Regions from separate parts of the Homo sapiens genome. Here region 2 is linked to region 1. The links come from fine-mapping of genetic effects on gene expression. A gene starts in region 1. The other region holds a variant in brackets. All regions are shown on one strand. Distances are from middle to middle. Region 1 holds the start of DUBR (DPPA2 upstream binding RNA). Region 2 has its middle 40 kb from the start of CCDC54.

The links. PIP is the estimated chance that this variant, and not a neighbour inherited with it, causes the effect.
Region 2: its variant is fine-mapped to the expression of DUBR in caudate (GTEx, PIP above 0.99).

Annotation. Positions count from the first base shown.
Region 1 is chr3:107,239,609-107,242,415 of GRCh38, reverse strand. It overlaps DUBR (DPPA2 upstream binding RNA), which reads right to left and starts at 1,724. Exons shown (of 4, transcript NR_028302.1): 1 at 1,329-1,724. It overlaps LINC00882 (long intergenic non-protein coding RNA 882), which reads left to right and starts at 1,778. Exons shown (of 4, transcript NR_028303.1): 1 at 1,778-1,973.
Region 2 is chr3:107,336,038-107,338,844 of GRCh38, reverse strand. No RefSeq gene overlaps it. Among named protein-coding and RNA genes, the nearest start is that of CCDC54, 40 kb to the left of the region's middle. The variant G/A (reference allele first, on the strand shown) is at 1,723.

The DNA of each region.
Region 1 (2,807 bases):
GGGTTGCGGGAGTGATAGTTAAAGGGTATGAAGTTTCCAGGTGATGAAAATTTTCTAAAATTGACTGTGGTGATGGTTGCACATATCTGCGAATATGCTGAAAGCAATGAATTGTACACATTGAATTGCACACTTTAAGTAGATGAACTGTATGGTGTGTGAATTATATCTCAATAAATCTGTAATTAAGAAAAAATAACAGTAGAAAGAATAAATTGTGTATACTCATATAACTGAATTTCATACAGCATAGAATAAAATTGTAAAAAAGACTTGTTACATGCAACGACACGGATGAATTCAAATATAATATAAAGGGAAATAAACCAAATACTATAAAATATTTACCAAGTAATTCATTTCATGTGAAATGTCAGAATAGACAAAACTAACAGGGGGATGAAGAATGCTACTATTAGTTAATTTCTTGAGCTGAGTTGTGGTTGCCCGGACATGTTTGTGTTAATCTTTGAAAGTTTACTGAACTGTATTTGTAATTTGTACACTTTTTTGTATGCTGTACTTCAACACGTTTTATTAAAAATATTTCTAAAAATCCAAATGTTCAGTAAGTTGTCCTATAATATGCATTAAAAAAGAATTAAAAAATACACAAGCATTTCAAAAGTTATTTTTTGTGGGTTAGGGTTATGGAGAATTTCTTTTCTGCTCTATACGTCTCAGAATTTTCCAAATGACCATAGTAGACATATATTACATTTATCACTAGAAAAAAATACTATTAAAATACAATTGTCTGAGATAATCTTGTACTACTTTTACACTAAACTAATTTAGTTCAAATGTGGGGACTTCAGCTTTTGCTCCCAGATGAAAAGAGCTTGTCATTTTGGAGCAAAGGAGGGCGTGGCAGTTGGTCGGAGTGTTTCCTGGTGGCCTAGGAGACTGCCAGAAACTCACCAAGGGCCACCGGCCTAGGGGGAGGAGCAGAGGTGCAGGTGCAGGGAGGGATTCAAGAGACTGTGAACTAAACCTGGGTGGGTCCCAGTCCTCACAAAACCTGGGTCCTAACTGCAAAACTATGGTCGGGCCTGGGAAGGGGCGGAGGACTCACTGGCGCTCTAGCCTCTGTGCTGGGTGAATTAGTGATTAGGCTCTAATCTTCACAGTCCTCATGATTCTATTTTTGTAAGGCCAGCAGCTAAGAGTGGTTTTTACATTTTCAAAACAAAGACGAATACGCTACAGAGACAGTTCCAGGCCCAAATTCTAGAGTATTTGCTTTCTGGCTCCTTACAGAAAAAGTGGGTAAACTTCTTGATTAGAGGGTCTAGGCAGAAGAATTCTAAGGTATTTAAAATTTTTACCTGGGAATGCGCTTGCTGGTGAGGCGGAGCCGGCGTGAAGCCAGTGTGCCCAGCGGCACTGGTACCACGCGATGCTGGATTGCCTAGGCTGGTCAGACGGAGCAAATCGGAATCCACGGAAGAAAATTCACCTCTTAAGGATCCAGTCCGGAAAGGGATGGCCGGGCTCTTCCTGGGCAGGGGTGCCCAAATGGATGAGGATGCTCTCTGCAGCCCTCGGCGGATCGCAAAGGAGCAGGGCTCCGGTCTTCTATCTGGGAAAACATGGTTGTCACTCGTGGAGAAGCCAACGGAGCCCCTGCGGAGTTTTCTTTCCTTTTCTCTGCTGCAGGCAGAAGAAGCGCATTGCGCGGTTCGCCGGGCTGTCTGCAACTTTGGGAGCTGCGCCGCGTGGGTGCGGCCAGCCGACCGGCGCGTGCGCAGTGAGTTCTCAGCGCCTCCCGCCGCGCAGGCTCGGCGTTGGCCTCCGCGGCCCGTGCGAGTGCGCCCTTCTCGGGTCCCCTAGGTCGCGGGGCAGCCGGGGCGGAAGGGGCTTGTTCATTATTTTGAGAGTTTGTTGTGAACGTCATAACCTTTCGTCCTTAAATATTGCCGATACTTGACCTACGCAAGAGACAATGTCATGTGATTCAGCCTAATATCTCAGTATGTATCCCCTAAGAATAAGGGATTTTTCTACATCAGGGTTTCTCAACCCCGCGCTATGGACATTTTGGGCAGGATGAGTTTTTGCTGTCTGTACCCGTAAGGTGGGGTGACGGGGTGGGGTGGGGGTGTCCTGTGCTAAACAATCACTATTTAGCAGCATCCTTGGCCTCTACCCATTAGATGCCAGTAGCAACCCCCTCCCCCAGTTGTGACAGCCAACGATGCCTCCAGACACTGCCAAACCCAAACGGTGTGGTTGGGGGGGTTGAGGGGGGGAGGGGTAGTGGTGAGGGTTGGGGGAAAAAGGAGAGGTACAAAGTTGCCTCAATTGAGGACCACAGGATCACAATGCACATCATCATACTTAGGAAATGTAACATTGTTATATTACAATAATCTATATTTCATATTTGAATTTCCTCAATTGTCCCAAAATGTCCTTCTTTACCCTGTAGTTTGTAAAATGTAAATCCGAGATTTAACAAGAATCACATAGTGCATCAATAAGAACCACATATTGCAGTTGTCAAGTCTCTTTCGCTTCCTTCAATATAGAGCAGTTCCCTAGCCTTTTTTGTTTGTTTCTCCTGGTATTGACATTTTTGAAAAGTCTAGCCCGGTGGTCTTCCAGAATATCCTTCAATTTGGAGATGTCAGATTGGTTCCTCATTATAAGATTCACGAGTAATAGATATGTACACACAAACATATATGCAGGAATTCTACCTAGGTGATGTATCCAATTTTATCTATTTTCAAATGACTTTTTAGCTGTCATAACATTTAATTTATAAAGCACCTCCCTGACCAGCGATTTGCAATATTTTTATC
Region 2 (2,807 bases), 96 kb before region 1:
TTTGGCTTTTGTTGCCATTGCTTTTGGTGTTTTAGACATGAAGTCCTTGCCCATGCCTATGTCCTGAATGGTATTGCCTAGGTTTTCTTCTAGGGTTTTTATGGTTTTAGGTCTAACGTTTAAGTCTTTAATCCATCTTGAATTAATTTTTGTATAAGGTATAAGGAAGGGATCCAGTTTTAGCTTTCTACATATGTCTAGCCAGTTTTCCCAGCACCATTTATTAAATAGGGAGTCCTTTCCTCATTGCTTATTTTTCTCAGGTTTGTCAAAGATCAGATAGTTGTAGATATGTGGCGTTATTTCTGAGGGCTCTGTTCTGTTCCATTGATCTATATCTCTGTTTTGGTACCAGTACCATGCTGTTTTGGTTACTGTAGCCTTGTAGTATACTTTGAAGTCAGGTAGCATGATGCCTCCAGCTTTGTTCTTTTGGCTTAGGATTGACTTGGCGATGCGGGCTCTTTTTTGGTTGCATATGAACTTTAAAGTAGTTTTTTCCAATTCTGTGAAGAAAGTCTTTTGTAGCTTGATGGGGATGGCATTGAATCTATAAACTACCTTGGGCAGTATGGCCATTTCCACGATATTGATTCTTCGTACCCATGAGCATGGAATGTTCTTCCATTTGTTTGTATCCTCTTTTATTTCATTAAGCAGTGGTTTGTAGTTCTCCCTGAAGAGGTCCTTCATGTCCCTTGTAAGTTGGATTCCTAGGTATTTTATTCTCTTTGAAGCAATTGTGAATGGGAGTTCACTCATGATTTGGCTCTCTGTTTGTCTGTTATTGGTGTATAAGAATGCTTGTGATTTTTGTACGTTGATTTTGTATCCTGAGACTTTGCTGAAGTTGCTTATCAGCTTAAGGAGATTTTGGGCTGAGACAATGGGGTTTTCTAGATATACAATCATGTCATCTGCAAACAGGGACAATTTGACTTCCTCTTTTCCTAATTGAATACCCTTTATTTCCTTCTCCTGCCTAATTGCCCTGGCCAGAATTTCCAACACTATGTTGAATAGGAATGGTGAGAGAGGGCATCCCTGTCTTGTGCCAGTTTTCAAAGGGAATGCTTCCAGTTTTTGCCCATTCAGTATGATATTGGCTGGGGGTTTGTCATAAATAGCTCTTATTATTTTGAGATACGTCCCATCAATACCTAATTTATTGACAGTTTTTAGCATGAAGGGTTGTTGAATTTTGTCAAAGGCCTTTTCTGCATCTATTGAGATAATCATGTGGTTTTTGTCTTTGGTTCTGTTTATATGCTGGATTACATTTATTGATTTGCGTATATTGAACCAGCCTTGCATCCCAGGGATGAAGCCCACTTGATCATGGTGGATAAACTTTTTGATGTGCTGCTGGATTCGGTTTGCCAGTATTTTATTGAGGATTTTTGCATCAATGTTCATCAAGGATATTGGTCTAAAATTCTCTTTTTTGGTTGTGTCTCTGCCCAGCTTTGGTATCAGGATGATGCTGGCTTCATAAAATGAGTTAGGGAGGATTCCGTCTTTTTCTATTGATGGGAATAGTTTCAGAAGGAATGGTACCAATTCCTCCTTGTACCTCTGGTAGAATTCGGCTGTGAATCCATCTGGTCCTGGACTTTTTTTGGTTGGTAAGCTATTGATTATTGCCACAATTTCAGAGCCTGTTATTGGTGTATTCAGAGATTCAACTTCTTCCTGGTTTAGTCTTGGGAGGGTGTATGTGTC[G/A]AGGAATTTATCCATTTCTTCTAGATTTTCTAGTTTATTTGTGTAGAGGTGTTTGTAGTATTCTCTGATGGTAGTTTGTATTTCTGTGGGATCGGTGGTGATATCCCCTTTATCATTTTTTATTGTGTCTATTTGTTTCTTCTCTCTTTTCTTCTTTATTAGTCTTGCTAGCAGTCTATCAATTTTGTTGATCCTTTCAGAAAACCAGCTCCTGGATTCATTAATTTTTTGAAGGGTTTTTTGTGTCTCTATTTCCTTCAGTTCTGCTCTGATTTTAGTTATTTCTTGCCTTCTGCTAGCTTTTGAATGTGTTTGCTCTTGCTTTTCTAGTTCTTTTAATTGTGATGTTAGGGTGTCAATTTTGGATCTTTCCTGCTTTCTCTTGTAGGCATTTAGTACTATAAATTTCCCTCTACACACTGCTTTGAATGTGTCCCAGAGATTCTGGTATGTTGTGTCTTTGTTCTCGTTGGTTTCAAAGAACATGTTTATTTCTGCCTTCATTTCGTTATGTACCCAGTAGTCATTCAGGAGCAGGTTGTTCAGTTTCCATGTAGTTGAGCGGTTTTGAGTGAGTTTCTTAATCCTGAGTTCTACTTTGATTGCACTGTGGTCTGAGAGACAGTTTGTTATACTTTCTGTTCTTTTACATTTGCTGAGGAGAGCTTTACTTCCAACTATGTGGTCAATTTTGGAATAGGTGTGGTGCGGTGCTGAAAAAAATGTGTATTCTGTTGATTTGGGGTGGAGAGTTCTGTAGATGTGTATTAGGTCTGCGTGGTGCAGAGCTGAGTTCAATTCCTGGGTATTCTTGTTAACTTTCTGTCCTGTTGATCTGTCTAATGTTGACAGTGGGGTGTTAAAGTCTCCCATTATTATTGTGTGGGAGTCTAAGTCTCTTTGTAGGTCACTCGGGACTTGCTTTATGAAGCTAGGTGCTCCTGTATTTGGTGCATATATATTTAGGATAGTTAGCTCTTCTTGTTGAATTGATCCCTTTACCATTATGTAATGGCCTTCTTTGTCTCTTTTGATCTTTGCTGGTTTAAAGTCTGTTTTATCAGAGACTAGGATTGCAACCCCTG